Homo sapiens: one gene and its partner. The protein of the gene in region 1 interacts with the protein of each later gene in a pairwise test. Each region holds a gene or a part of one and is shown on either strand. Other genes may lie near its edges.

Evidence for each region.
Region 2: the proteins of DICER1 (region 1) and TNFSF12 interact in binary tests that used the Homo sapiens proteins (3 or more experiments, as listed by UniProt).

What each region holds. Positions count from the first base shown.
Region 1 is NC_000014.9:95,091,530-95,098,529, reverse strand, and holds part of DICER1 (endoribonuclease Dicer), read left to right. Parts: intron 1-1,816; coding exon 1,817-2,705; coding exon of another isoform or gene 2,706-2,758; exon of another isoform or gene 2,759-3,184; intron 3,185-4,373; coding exon 4,374-4,642; intron 4,643-5,835; exon of another isoform or gene 5,836-5,961; intron 5,962-7,000. UniProt on the Homo sapiens protein: Double-stranded RNA (dsRNA) endoribonuclease playing a central role in short dsRNA-mediated post-transcriptional gene silencing.
Region 2 is NC_000017.11:7,543,781-7,552,461, forward strand, and holds the start of TNFSF12 (tumor necrosis factor ligand superfamily member 12 proprotein), read left to right. Parts: upstream 1-5,277; 5' UTR 5,278-5,373; coding exon 5,374-5,532; intron 5,533-5,693; coding exon 5,694-5,741; intron 5,742-6,339; coding exon 6,340-6,415; intron 6,416-7,018; coding exon 7,019-7,072; intron 7,073-7,162; coding exon 7,163-7,198; intron 7,199-8,681. Other genes in the region: TNFSF12-TNFSF13 protein, read left to right, coding at 5,374-5,532, 5,694-5,741, 6,340-6,415, 7,019-7,072, 7,163-7,198. UniProt on the Homo sapiens protein: Binds to FN14 and possibly also to TNRFSF12/APO3. Weak inducer of apoptosis in some cell types. Mediates NF-kappa-B activation. Promotes angiogenesis and the proliferation of endothelial cells. Also involved in induction of inflammatory cytokines.

The DNA of each region.
Region 1 (7,000 bases):
ATTTTTCTTAATGTTTCTGATGGCACTTTGGTTATTGGAATTCATTAGAAATACTGTTCAGATTTTTATTTAGTAAGTTACTTTTATTGAAATATAGGCCCTTGCATTATATTGAAAAGATACACTGTGGTTTTGGCTGGTTGCATTGCCATTCTCCCTACCTTGCTCTGGCCCTTCAGCAAATGGGCTTAAGTGGAAACCTTTGCATGCTAAAACGCCTCTTAATAGACGAGAGTATCAAAGTTGACTTGAATGATATAGAAAAGGATTTCATGTGGCTGTTTTTTCTTAAAAGGCTTGAAGTGCTCTTGAAAAACATTTTATGAGACAGAACCCCACTCTTTTGTAGATGAAGCATCTGAAACCCAGAGGCACTAAAAGGCTTTGCCCAGGATCACACAGTTTGTGATAAAAGTCAGCCCTTTGTGATTTTTGTGCTCTGCCACTTTTGGCTTATGGTGGCACCTTTCTAAAGATACAGAAGGTTTTTTTCAATAAAAAAAAAATATTGTCTGATTTTTTAAAAATCGCAGTTTGGCCCTCTTTTTCTTAAGGACCAATCAAAAACATCTTCATGTTGCCTTGGAAAGTCTAAGATTGTTAGCAGGAAATGTTCCTTGAGGTCTGCCGCTACAGTTGCTTTTGGTGTTCCTTATTCTTGAAAAGGTGTTTCTTTCTTAATTAAAAAAATGAAAAGATAAATAGTTAGAGATATGGCTTGGCTTACTGCTATTTCTTTTCAGACAAATGTAGTGTTTATATCTTGAGTCTAGTTTAAAATATTTGTAGTATTTAAAAAATGCTTGAAGGTTGCAACTTTTTTTTGTCAGAACACTGGAAAGTTGTTACAATCAACATTGATGCACACCCTTCGTCTTCCCCCTTCACAAGTTTTTTGGTTTTTTAAAAACTTGCATAACAGAAATTTGGCATCTTTCTAGGATTGCAAAGAAGTTACATCATTACTGAAATCTAGCCCATTATTAAGGTTGTCACTCACAAATAAGCTTTTGCCAAAGAAATTGGAATTAGCAAAGATCTTTTGACAGAAATTGGATTGTTGTGTTTCATGTTAGTCTAAATTTTCTTCCATTTTTGTCAGTTATGCTATAATCTGTTCCCCTGATTACCGTAGTTCAGAGTGGAGGGAAAAAACGTAACTTCTCAAATTCATAGCTTAGTGCAGTGATCACTTTTATTTTTTAAGGAAAGCAGTGTAGTTTTTTTGTGGCAAGTATACTTTGAAGTGGAAATAGGGACAAAAAGCTTTATTATAAAATCCTATTGTACATTTTAAAAAATGATTTTATCTGTTTTTATATTATATTCTTAATTGCAAAGGTAATGCTTTTCTACATCTGGAATTTCGTTTTATTAGTTTGAAAATCTTTTTGAAAATCAAATTACCACATTTTCAAATTTTGTCAGCAAAATTGAAGATCTGTGTGATCAGCATATGAGTGCTTTCATTGTGTGTCCTACCAGAGTTAGACGACTTAGTTGAAGTTTTGCATTGTGGACATTAATTTTAACTTTATATCCATGTTCAAAGTCCTTAACTTAAAGCTTCATACTGGATAAAGGTCATTTTATAACTTAGAAAACGAACATTCAAAGAACATGTTTTACTTTGTTTATATGATTAAATAACTTATTTTATGTTAATTGAAAACAAATGGCCATGATTTTAAAGTTGCCTTTTAGTATTTGTGGTTGTCATTTGAAATTATCCATAACCCTTGCTTTTATTGAGTTTCAAACCCTTTTAAAAACAGCAGCTATGTTTCCCCTCCTTCCCCATTCCCCCTCGTTTCAGACAAAAGACTGCATGCTGGCGAATGGCAAACTGGATGAGGATTACGAGGAGGAGGATGAGGAGGAGGAGAGCCTGATGTGGAGGGCTCCGAAGGAAGAGGCTGACTATGAAGATGATTTCCTGGAGTATGATCAGGAACATATCAGATTTATAGATAATATGTTAATGGGGTCAGGAGCTTTTGTAAAGAAAATCTCTCTTTCTCCTTTTTCAACCACTGATTCTGCATATGAATGGAAAATGCCCAAAAAATCCTCCTTAGGTAGTATGCCATTTTCATCAGATTTTGAGGATTTTGACTACAGCTCTTGGGATGCAATGTGCTATCTGGATCCTAGCAAAGCTGTTGAAGAAGATGACTTTGTGGTGGGGTTCTGGAATCCATCAGAAGAAAACTGTGGTGTTGACACGGGAAAGCAGTCCATTTCTTACGACTTGCACACTGAGCAGTGTATTGCTGACAAAAGCATAGCGGACTGTGTGGAAGCCCTGCTGGGCTGCTATTTAACCAGCTGTGGGGAGAGGGCTGCTCAGCTTTTCCTCTGTTCACTGGGGCTGAAGGTGCTCCCGGTAATTAAAAGGACTGATCGGGAAAAGGCCCTGTGCCCTACTCGGGAGAATTTCAACAGCCAACAAAAGAACCTTTCAGTGAGCTGTGCTGCTGCTTCTGTGGCCAGTTCACGCTCTTCTGTATTGAAAGACTCGGAATATGGTTGTTTGAAGATTCCACCAAGATGTATGTTTGATCATCCAGATGCAGATAAAACACTGAATCACCTTATATCGGGGTTTGAAAATTTTGAAAAGAAAATCAACTACAGATTCAAGAATAAGGCTTACCTTCTCCAGGCTTTTACACATGCCTCCTACCACTACAATACTATCACTGGTAAGGAGCCCACGACCAGACTTCATTTCTGGGAAAATGAGACTTTGTGTTGATCTCATCGTGTTGGCCTTGTAAAAGTGATCTATGCATGTACAGTGTTCATGCTTAATATTCAAGGGATGGGGCGGGGAACAAAAGGAATAGAAAGAATTCTTTTCCTTGTTATTTGGGGAGCACGTATTGCTTTATAACTTTGGTTGTTGGGAGTATGGCTATCATATACCCTCATCAGTGTCATTTTATATCTGCCTAATTAGAGAAATTTTAACCTTAGTATTTTGATGTGTTTTCCCCATTTTATCCTCCGCAAATATCTTTCTCTTGCCCATTCAGTGCTGCTTTTGGTTTTTGATTTAGTTGTATATTCTGGATGTATTTCCACAGCCTTTTATTGTTCTTCCTGGACAAAAAGACCCCTCCTTTAGGGTCTTTTTAAAGATGGATAGATTAAAAGATTAAAAGCAATGATTTCACAAGAAGGTTGCGTGGCCCTTGCTGTGACTCTGCTGTCATCTTCTACTTCTCACTGTGCTCTGTATTTGCCCCTCTTTTAATAGACTGTCAACCCATTAGATTAGAAGGGAGAACAAGCCCCTCACACCCAAATCAGCTTCAGGCTGTGAAACACAGCTGAAGTTTACATTTCAATTTCTGTATCAGAAAAATAAGTGCCTGAATTCAGAACACCAAAGCAAAGTATAAAGTTTGTAGTTTATATAATAAAAGCAGCGTAGGTTAAGGTGATCAGCAAAATGTAAAAACCAAAAAGTGAAAAACTATCTGACTCTGGACTGGAAAGACTGATGAAACTAAAGCCTAATTTTCGTTATGGAGGAAAAATGATACGTGGCTTTCGACTACATTCTGCTGGAAGTTCCGAGACCTGGGTTCTCGCCTAGCAGTCCCTGCTTCTTAATTCCTTGCTTATTCTGGGACAAGTCACCATCGGTCCCTGCCTCAGTTTCCTCAGCTGGATATATTATTTTAATCACTGTGAGAAAATAGAGGTGTTGATTTAACATTGATCATTTTCACATTTTGACAACCAGTTTACCTGCCTTTGCTCCCTTTCACAACTCTTCTTTCTCAATCTCTTGGTTTGTGGTAAATTCATTTCTATAATAGCTCAAGTTAAGAAGAGGGTCTTCTTTTCCTGTCATCCTGTGTAACAAAAATAGCCCAGGAATAGTGAGGAATGGTATCACTTATGCACAGATTCCAGAGTGTGAATGAGACTTTAGCGATGGCAGCACAGTGTAGCCACATGGAGAGGTGTGTGCGGCCCTGGTTTCACTTAAGTGATGATGTGTGAGGGAGACTCGAGAGGAAGGCCCCAGCACCTGCCCAGACAGCACAGTGCCAGAGAAAAGCATTCAGTGATCATGATAGCACCTGTGAGGTTTTGTTTTTCCTTCTTAACAAGCGTTAGTCTTTTGACCACTTGAAGATTTTATGACCCCAGTTTATATAAGAAATGTACTTAATTTGTCATTAAAATTTAGTTTCCAGAGGCTTTTTAGTATGATATGTCAGATATCCTTTTTGAAGAATATATGTATGAAAATGATTGTAAATACAAATCTTCTTCGGATTTGGGGATCAGTTGCTATGTGGGGATAGTGTAAATGCTTCTGCACAAGCTTACGGTTCCACTTCGGATCCCCTCAGATTGTTACCAGCGCTTAGAATTCCTGGGAGATGCGATTTTGGACTACCTCATAACCAAGCACCTTTATGAAGACCCGCGGCAGCACTCCCCGGGGGTCCTGACAGACCTGCGGTCTGCCCTGGTCAACAACACCATCTTTGCATCGCTGGCTGTAAAGTACGACTACCACAAGTACTTCAAAGCTGTCTCTCCTGAGCTCTTCCATGTCATTGATGACTTTGTGCAGTTTCAGCTTGAGAAGAATGAAATGCAAGGAATGGATTCTGAGGTTAGTGCTGTTCAAAACGATGTTGAAAAAAGTGGTCTAACTAGGAGTCTCTGTAGTTTCAGAGTTCTGACGGCATAGTGGTCTAAAGGGACAGCAGGAGGTCAGGGGTGTGGGACCCAGTGTGCTGTGTTCTGTGGGAGCACGAGTGAACTGCAGTTTGCAGGTAGGCCTCTTGAACTTGTCTGCCCCCACTGTGGGCTGTGTGGTCATTCAGGTGAAGAGAAGGAACCAGGCCTTTCAGTTAGGTACCCTTCCCACGCCTTCATGAGGGCTTCCAGCATTGAGGCATGCCAAAGAAGTGGCCTCCACTGCCGGACCCCAAGGCAGGTTTAGCTTTAGTAAAAGCCCAGTGTAGCTTATCCTTCCTTTTTTAAATGGATCAGAAATATTTGCTAATATCTCAGGGAAGCATCATAAATATACATTCTGCTTCTACTTGAAGTGGGAAAATCTAATTTAAAAAACAAACTTCTAAATTTTTGACCATTGGAATTTGGGAGGCTTCTATTGTAAGTTCAGCCAAAGGCTGTCTGGTGACAGAGCTAATTCTAATGTGTTTGTGAGCTATTTCGAATTTTTGTAGGAAAGGATATTGCTTAGATCTTTCCAGTCTCTTAACATTCATCTGCATACCTGTGTCCCCCAGAGAGACTCTCATTTCCTCCTCTTCCCATTTCATTTCCTTTGATTTTCTTATTTTTGTAGATTTTCTTATAAGGAGTCAGGAAATACAACCTTAATACTAGTAGCTGTTTTAGTTGTCATTGCTTTAATTTGTACCTTCCCCTTTTTAATTGCACCAAACCTTTGTTGGGGAGTAGTGACTTTCTATGACAAAAATTAAGAGTAGGTTTGAAGTCTAGCCGCAGAGCCGAGTTCACGCCCTGCCAGCTGCCCAGATGTGCACTGGAGGAGTCAGTAGGCCCTGCTCTTACTTTAACGCGCCTCTGTGCTCTTGTCCAAGATGAACAGCCTGAGCTGGAGCGTGGCAGGCTGTGAGGCGAGAAGGCGGGACCAGCTCGTAGACTTCCAAGTGTTACCTAGTCTCATTCTTTAGAAATAGCTAAGCTTGAAATTTGAGGAATTAGTTAAAATTAGATTTAAGCTCTCTTTGGATGCCAGTGGGGCATATTGGTTTTGTTAGTTTTTGTTCATTCTTTTCCTTCCCTTTGTTTATATAAACATATGTATAGAAGTTACAAGAACTGATTGGAAATGTCATGGTCTGGCATTTCTAACTTACTATTTGATCTTAAGAAAGTCTCTTTACCTCTCTGGGCCTCCGTTTCCTCAGCTGTAAAAAGAGAGAATTAAACTTGGTAAGTTTTAAAATTCCTTTCTATCTCAAAACCATAAATATGAACAATAAGTCTGTTTTTTTAAGTAATCAGCAGTATAAATGTATTATATGTAACTTTGTATGGCTAAACAACCTATTAGAAATTAGTATTTTCCCACTTTCTCTTTATTTTTTTCACAAATGATTTGTGTTGATTTTAGAAAAGTTAGTACAAGTAAATAAGAAGAAAATTAGTTAAATTTGCCTGATTATGCTACCTCGGAAATAACCAATATTAACATTTTGGGAGGAATTGTGGATGTGTATAGATATAAACATATCTAAAATGTAAAATGGAATTCTGTTATGTATAGGATACTGTCACCTGTTCTTTTCACGTATAATATATTGTGGCTGACTTTCCGTGTATTGATGGGTATCGTGATGCTCAGGGGCCACACGCTAGTCAACACGTGGCTGATTGATTTAAACGCTTCTTTATGGCCGAGTAATTAAGTAGTTTTTGGTTAGGATGTTTAATAACCATGGAGGTGATAAATACGCTTATGTATCTAGTTACCTCCTTAAAATAAGTTCTTAGAGATGCAATTGCTGCATCAAAGAATTGTGAACTTTTCAAAGGCTTTTGATGCATGATTTTCTTTTATTAATTTGCATACATGCTATGTCAGATACTCGGTTATAGTGAACACATATCTAGTGGCTTAATGAAGAGGGAACTTGGAGGAAAAAATCTTTCAAATATAATTTCCCTATTTCCCTACAACAGCGATTTCTGCTCCCCAAAGCAGCATACACCCGTGCCAGCACCAGACCAATTAGTACTATTGAATGCTTGCCAAGCAGCTAGGGAGTAGAACTGTTTTAAAGTATAGTTCTTTGATTACGAGTGAATTTGAATTTTTTTCATACTTTTATTGACTATTTCTAATTCTTTGTTAAGGTTGTTTAAAGTTAGAAGTAATCTTTTTTCTTTGCTGGGTATATAGAATAATAAATGGGGTGGGGATATTTTTTCTTTTTTTCTTGAGAAGTTTGAAAAACTTTTTTAAAAATAT
Region 2 (8,681 bases), on another chromosome or scaffold:
CTGTAAACCCAGCTACTTGGGAGGCTGAGACAGGAGGATCCCTTGATCCCAGGAATTTGAGACCAGCCTAGGCAACATAACAGGACCCTGTCTCACATAAATAAATAACTAAACAAACAAACAAACAGATAAATACAGACAGACATACATCTAGGGAAGACGGAGGTGGCAGGTAGAAGTGGAAAGAGAAAGAAGCCCAGGACAGGGATTTGAGTTGTTTGATTGACTGATTAAAGCTTAAATAAAGCTTAAGAATTTTGACCAAAAGTGAGTGTGGTGGTGGCTTGGGGGTGGCATTTAGTCCTCTCTTGGGTCTGTTAGCAACTCATCCTGGTTTTTCCAGAACTGTCCTGGTTTTAGCATTGAAAGTACCTCATCCTGGGAACCTCCTTAGTCCCGGCAAACTGGGATGGTCACTGTCCACTCTCAGGCTGCTACTATCACCATATTCAGTAGTCACTGCCAGACTGGGAAGGCTAGGCCATATTTATTCATTCAACAAACTTTTGCTGACCCTGGAAATACAATGCCTGCAAAGCATACACAGTCCCTACCCTTACAGACTACGTGAAATTCTTTATTTGCATTTAAGTGATTTTTTTTTGAGACGGAGTTTCACTCTTGTCACCCAGGCTAAAGTGCAATTGCACGATCTCAGATCACTGCGACCTCTGCCTCCTGGGATCAGGCGATTCTCCTGCCTCAGCCTCCCAAGTAGCTGGGATCTCGGCTCACTGCAACCTCCGCCTCTTGGGTTCAAGCTATTCTCCTGCCTCAGTCTCCTGAGTAAGGGGGATTACAGACATGCGTCACCACACCCGGATAATTTTTGTATTTTTAGTAGAGACGGGGTTTCACCATGTTGGCCAGGCTGGTCTCAAACTCCTGACCTCAAGTGATCTGCACGCTTCAGCCTCCCAAAATGCTGGGATTACAGGCGTGACCACCAGGCATGGCCTTGCATTTAAGTGATACTAATCAAGCTGGATATCCAAAAAGAAAAACAAAAAAGAAAATGACAAAGCCTTTTTTTCCTTTAGTATCTTGGTTGAAAATGTGAAAAGTAAGAAAAGTGTAAAAAGGCAGGAATAAAAAATATTAGCAGATTTCCTTTCAGTATTTTTCCTGCATGTTTCCCAAGTTACTTCCTATCAGTGTCCTAAAAAATGCAAGTTAATTTTAACTTTGGCCGCAAACCAAGAACAAAAAGGTTAAGTGTATTGAATTAATTTTTCAAGCCAAAGTTAAAGGATCTGAGGATGATCTGCTGTCTCCAAGGCTCCAGTCCCTGTTTTTTTCCTTTAGCAGGTGTGATCACACGCTGGCTGAGATGAGTAATGACTTTCCCTCTCCTCAGCACGCTTGCTGCTGTACAATTTTTTTCTTTTTACAAATTAAAATGCTGCATTCACCTGATAATAAAAATCAAGTAGAGGCTGGGTGCAGTGGCTCACGCCTGTAATCCCAGCACTTTGGGAAGCTGAGGCGGGTGAATCACCTGAGGTTGGGAGTTCGACACCAGCCTGACCAACATGGTGAAACCCCGTCTCTTCCAAAAATACAAAAATTAGCCTGGCATGGTGGTGGGTGCCTGTAATCCCAGCTACTCAGGAGGCTGAGACAGGAGAATCGCTTGAACCCGGGAGGCAGAGGTTGCAGTGGGCTGAGATCACACCATTGCGCTCCAGCCTGAGTGATGAGAGTGAAACTCCATCTTAAAAAAAAATAGGCCGGGCGCGGTGGCTTATGCCTGTAATCCCAGCACTTTGGGAGGCCAGGGCGGGTGGATCACGAGATCAAGAGTTTGAGACCAGCCTGGCCAACATGGTGAAACCCTGTCTCTACTAAAAATGCAAAAATTAGCCAGGCATGGTGGTGCACGCCTGTAATCCCAGCTACTTAGGAGGCTGAGGCAGGAGAATCACTTGAACCTGGGAGGGAGAGGTTGCAGTGAGCCAAGATTGTGCCACTGTACTCCAGCCTGGGTGACAGAGCGAGACTCCGTCTCAAAAAAAAAAAAAAAAAAAAAAAAAAAAGTGAAAATTGTGGGCATTTGCAGTCTTTGCTGCCATTAAGTCTTCTGGATTTTTCTACAGGTTGACTCTAAAAGTTGAAATCCAGTCAAAGATATTTACATTATTATGGCCACATGAACGTTGTTTACCCTCAGGCCAAACAATGGGCTGGAATTACACTTGCTTCTCCACACACTCCATCCCATAATCCATGTGTCACTCAAAGGACAATGTGGCAAGCAAGCACTAAGGCCCTAAATTGATACTGTATCAATTAAATACAATTATGTTGTGTTATAGCTTGTGTTTCATTTATTTTATTTTATTTTTTATTTTTATTTTTCTGAGAGATGAACTCTCACTCTGTCGCCCAGGCTGGAGTGCAGTGGCACAATCTCGCCTCACTGCGACCTCTGCCTCCCAGGTTCAAGTGATTCTCCTGCCTCAGCCTCTCGAGTAGCTGGGATTACAGGCGTGCGCCACCATGCCCGGCTAATTTTTGTATTTTTAGTAGAGACAGGGTTTCACCATGTTGGCCAGGCTGGTCTCAAACTCTTGATCTCGTGATCCACCTGCCTTGGCCTCCCAAAGTGCTGGGATTACAGGCATGAGCCACTGCGCCCGGCCTATTTATTTTATTTCAAGCAGTTCTCCTGCCTCAGCTTCCCAAGTAGCTGGAACTTCAGGCGTGCACCACCATGCCCAGCTAATTTTTGTATTTTTTAGTAGAGATGGTGTTTCACTACATGTTGGCCAGGCTGGTCTCGAACTCCTGACCTCAGGTGATCCACCCACCTTGGCCTCCCAAAGTGCTGGGATTACAGGCATGAGCCACTGTGCCCGGCCTATTTATTTTATTTTTTATAGAGACAGGGTCTCACTCTGCTGCCGAGGCTTCGGTTCAATGGGGTGATCATAGCTCACTGCAACCTCAAACTCCTGGGATCAAGTGATCCTCCTGACTTAGCCTCCACAGTAGCTGGGACTACAGGAGCATGCCATCGCACCTGGATAATTTTTCTTGTATTTTTTGTAGAGATGGAAAGGGGTTCTCACTATTTTGCCCAGGCTGGTCTTGAACTCCTGGCCTCAAGAGATCCTCTCGTCTCAACCTCTCAAAGCTCTAGGGTTACAGGCGTGAGCCATGATGCCCTGCCCGTATTTATTTATTTTTATTTTATTATTTATTTATTATCTTTTTTTTTTTTTGAGACAGGGTCTTCCTCTGCAGCCCAAGCTGGAGTTCAGTGCCCAGATCATAGCTCATGGCAACCTGGAATTCCTGGGCTCAAGCGATCCTCCTGCCTCAGTTTCCCCAGTAGCTGGGACTACAGGTGCACACCATGATGCCCAGCCTGTTTTGTTGCTTTTTTTTTTTTTTTTTTTTTTTTTTTTGAGATGGAGTCTTGCTCTGTCGCCCAGGCTGGAGTGCAGTCATGCGATCTCGGCTCATTGCAACCTCCACCTCCCGGGTTCAAGCAATTCTCTGCCTCAGCCTCCCGAGTAGCTGAGATTACAGGTGCCCGCCACCGTGCCCAGCTAATTTTTGTTTTTTTAGTAGAGACAGGGTTTCACCATCTTGGCCAGGCTAGTCTTGAACTCCTGACCTTGTGATCCACCGACCTTGGCCTCCCAAAGTGCTGGGATTACAGGCGTGAGCCACCACAACTGGCCCCAGCTGTTTCTTATTTACATTGTGATTTCAGTTTTGAAAATTTTCTGGAGATTCTAACTGCTTTTCTTTCTTTGCATACTCTTTTTTTTTTTTTTTTTTTTGACAGGGTCTTACTCTGTTGCTCGTGTTGGAATGCAGTGGTGTGATCACAGCTCACTGCAGCCTCAACCTCCCAGGCTCAGGTGATCCTCCCATCTCAACCTCCTGAGTAGCTGGGACTACAGGCATGCACCACCATGCCCAGCTCTATGGATGCTTTTTCTTGACTCTCTTTAAGTATATTAGGTAGTACTCTTTGTATCCTGAATTATCTCTGTTTCCTCCAATGTCAAATTTTGTTTGTTAATTTTGGTCTTTCTTTCTTTTTTTTTTTTTTTGAGATAGGGTCTTGCTGTGTTGCCCAGGCTGGAGTGTGGTGGCGTGATCTCAGCTCTCTGCAACCTCTGTCTCCTGGGTTCAAGCAATTCTCTGCCTCAGCTTCCCGAGTAGCTGGGAACTACAGGCGCCTGCCACCACGTCCGGCTAATTTTTTTGTATTTTTATTAGAGACAGGGTTTCACCATCTTGGCCAGGCAGGTCTCGATCTCCTGACCTCGTGATCCACCCGCCTCAGCCTCCCAAAGTGCTGCGATTACAGGCGTGAACCATCGCGCCCAGCCAATTTTGGTCCTTCCTTCCTTCCTTCCTTCCTTCCTTCCTTCCTTCCTTCCTTCCCTCCTTCCCTCCCTCCCTCCCTCCCTCCTTTCTTTCTTTCTTCCTTTCTTTCTTTCTTTTTGAGACAAGGTCTGTTGCCCAGGCTGGAGTGTAGTGGTGCAATCACAGCTCACTGCAGCCTCAAACTCCTGGGCTCAAACAATCCTCCTACCTCGGCCTCCTGAGTAGCTGGGACTACAGGCGTGGGCTAATTTTTTAAAACTTTTCTGTAGAGATGGGGTCTTGCTCTTGCCCAGGCTGATCTTGAACTCCTGGCCCCCAGCCTTGGCCTTCTGGGATTACAGGCGTAAGCCACCTGCCGGACCAATTTTGGTGTTTCTTTTGCATGCTGCTGGTCCTCCTCAGATGCTTGGCAATCATTGGTAATGATGGGCTTCAGAACGTGCTACCGGCACAGTGAGTGTTTTAAGCTGAAGGAATTTGAGAAAACCGCAGAAGCCGAAGGATCTTTCTTACCTTCTCCTGCCCTTCTTCCCTGAACCAGGTCATACAACCTGGAACTCCCTGCCCTTTTCCTGAAGAAGCAAATAACAGCCTCCTGCGAGAGGCGCCCTCCCTGCACCTGGGGGAAAGGAGGGTCCTTATCTCTGAAGACACAGGGACACAGAAGAATCTGAACCAACAGGCCTTCCTGAGTTCCCCACCTCCCCGCAGGAGGTGCCCGCACACGCATAGCCCCGTCGCTCCCGCGGCCGCACGCAACGGACCTCGCCCTGGTGGTGCACGCCCGGGCTGGGCGCTCAGAGGTCGGGTGGGCGCCCACTCCGTTCGCTGCGCGCACAGCGCCCGGCGAGAGGCTCGGAGTTTGATCACACACAGCGTCCGGCTTCCTGTCCCCAGCGCCCCCTCCCGCCCCGTTTCCCTTGCCCCTCCCTCTCCCCGGCCCGATCCGCCCGCCGGCTCCCCCTCCCCCGATCCCTCGGGTCCCGGGATGGGGGGGCGGTGAGGCAGGCACAGCCCCCCGCCCCCATGGCCGCCCGTCGGAGCCAGAGGCGGAGGGGGCGCCGGGGGGAGCCGGGCACCGCCCTGCTGGTCCCGCTCGCGCTGGGCCTGGGCCTGGCGCTGGCCTGCCTCGGCCTCCTGCTGGCCGTGGTCAGTTTGGGGAGCCGGGCATCGCTGTCCGCCCAGGTGAGGCCCCGCTGCGCACCCCTTCTTGGGCACATCAGGAGCTGAGACTGCAGAGGGGCCGCTGGGGGCCGCGTGGGCTGAAGGCAAGGGGAAGGGAGGATGGGTGGAGGGTGAGATGTCAGGTGGAGCGGCACAGGGTGACGCTCCCTCCTTCCCAGCAGGAGCCTGCCCAGGAGGAGCTGGTGGCAGAGGAGGACCAGGACCCGTCGGTGAGTGGGCGTGGGCGCGGTCTGCAGGCTGCTGGGGCATGGGAAGTGTGCACAGCCGAGGCTGCAGGTGTGTGCAGCTGTGCCAGCCGTACTCGAGGTGTGTGCAGGGTGTGTGTGAACACAGTGCGTGCATGGGTGCGTGTCTGCAGGGGTGTGTGTGCGTGGTGACAACTCTGTGTGAGGGGTTTGTGCTGGGGTTGTGCCACCTGAGTCTGAGGTGTTTATTGGCTGGGGGTGACGTGGTTGTATAAGATATGTGAGTCTGCGTGGAAGAGGGGTGCGGTTGTGTACAGGGTGTGTATCCTCTGTGCGTGGTGACTGGGTGCGGGCATGTGTGCAATGTGCCAATTGAATGCAGGGTCTGCGTTGGTTGTGTGTGTGGGTGGGAAAGTGTAGCTGGTCTAGAGGAAAGGGTGAGGACTGGGGCCTGACTCCCAGCTTCACCTTTGCCCGGGGCCCCAGCTGTAGTTGGCTGAGGGGCTTAATCTGTCCCTGACTTCTGTGTCTATTGCTGGCTGGTGGCTCTCCTGACAGGCCCCGTATGTCTCACTTTATATCTCTGGGAGTCTGTGGTTGAACCCTGCCCTAATTCCCCTAGGAACTGAATCCCCAGACAGAAGAAAGCCAGGATCCTGCGCCTTTCCTGAACCGACTAGTTCGGCCTCGCAGAAGTGGTGAGCATCCCTCTATCCCAACCTCAGGAAGCGGGCAGAGCAAAAACCATTATCCACAGGGAGAAACTGAGGCACGGAGGGTGAAAGGAGTTCAGAGTCATGCAGCTAACCAGCCAAGACTCAAACCTAGGGATTCTCGCCCTCCTCTGAAGCTCCTTCTGTCATATGGATGTGCTCCTTCAGACCCTACCCCAAACAGGAAGGCAGGGTGGCCATGAGTTAGAAGAACTACTGGGATCCTGATGGAGACTAGGCCTGGCAGTCAGAGGCCTGGGCCCCGGTAGGCAAAGAGACTTAGGAATGGGATGATGGGGTGGCCGGATGACCACGTGTCCAAGTCGGCATGCAGTTGTCCTGGCCCCCACCTGTTATCTCGGTGTGATTAATAGCAGCTTCCCGTTTTGCTCTCAGCAGTATCCCAGTGTGGATGACAAATTATAGTCACTCTACTTACTGAGGAAGATGAGGCCTGAGATTCTAAGGCCAGGAGTCTGGACAAGAATAAGGATGCCAGGGTTCCTGAGAGGGGAATGGGGCTGGGAGAGTTGCTCTGGGACCCCCACTAGGGCCCGCTTTGCTCATCTGTCTTTCCTTGATCCTCAGCACCTAAAGGCCGGAAAACACGGGCTCGAAGAGCGATCGCAGCCCATTATGAAGGTGGGTGATGGGTGAGCCATACCCAGGAGGAGAGGGGCAGGTGGCAGAGGGTCAGGGCAGGTCTCACCAGCCTTTTCCTGTACTTTACAGTTCATCCACGACCTGGACAGGACGGAGCGCAGGCAGGTGAGACCCCATCCCCCGACACAGCACTGGCCTCCTGGGAAAAGGGCCCTTGAAAACCTTTGACCTCCCACTCCCTTCCCGGCCATCAGTCTCAGAACCACAGAAGCCAGTTCATGAAGGTCTTGGTTCTCTCTGTGACCCAGGCGTGGGACCCCATGAAAGACCCCTACTCTTCCCCAGAACTCTGCCCAGTTCCCCCAGCAAATCACTGTCCCAGCTCTCTCCTTCAGCCCTCATTCTTCTCCAAGAAGCACTTTTCATTCTTTTTTCTTCTGTCTCCTCCATATTCCACGTTCTGATGATCTTTTTCTCTAAATGCTGCTAGTGTCTGCTCATCTTTTCCATTTCTACCCCACCCTCTACCTCAGCACCGTGACCTCAGAACCTCAAATCCAGCCTCTTGCTGCTTCCCCACTCCACACCCTCCCTACCCCTCCACTCCATCTGACCTGTGCTGCCATGCTGAGCCCCTAAACTTCACTTTTCTTGTGGTATTGGCTCTCTACATGGCTTCCAGTCTCTTCGTGGTCTGGTCTCAACCTAATTTCCCTGCACTCTTATGCTGTCTTCATGTTTGCTGCGCTGACACCCCTGCTCCCGGTGTGCCTCTTCTGGACTTTGCACATACCATCCCCCTCACCAGAATGTCTTTCCACTGTGAGAGGCAGGGAGGCATGAGGAGTGCTCAGCCGAGGGGTTCACAGCAGAGATGGTGAGAAGTGGATGGGTTCAGCCTGTGTCCTGAAGATATTACTGACTTATGGGTTGGAGGTGAAGAATAAAAGAAAGGGAGGAATCACAGATGACTTCTAGATTTTTTATTTTTTTTAAGACAGTCTCGCTCTGTCACCCAGGCTGGAGTGCAGTGGTGCAATCTCGGCTTACTGCAACCTCTGCCTCCCAGGTTCAAGAGATTCCCGTCTCAGCCTTCCAAGTAGCTGGGATTACAGGCGTGTGCCACCACGCCTGGCTAATTTTTGTATTTTTAGTAGAGATGGGGTTTTGCCATGTTTTCCAGGCTGGTCTCAAACTCTTGACCTCCAGTGATCTGCCCGCCTCGGCCTACCAAAGTGCTGGGATTACAGGCATGAGCCACTGCACCCAGCCAGCTTCTAGATTTTTAACTTGGGTATCTCTGGGAAGAATGATGCCATTTCCTAAGAAGGGATTGACCAAGGAATAAATAGGTTGGGAAGTATGTAAGATAATTATTAACGTTGAGAAGTCTAAAATAAACAAGCGGATAAATGACAATAAAGTAAATTCCAGAAATGGATGGCTGGACATTGTCGACTAGCTTAGGCTAGGTCAGGACGGATAAAGCCAGGAGTCATGGCCATATGGATGGCTTTTTTTTTTTTTTTTTTGAGACAGAGTCTCGCTCTGTCACCCAGGCTGGAGTGCAGTGGTTCGATCTTGGCTCACTGCAACATCTGCCTCCTGGGTCCAAGCGATTCTCCTGTCTCAGCCTCCCAAGTAGCTG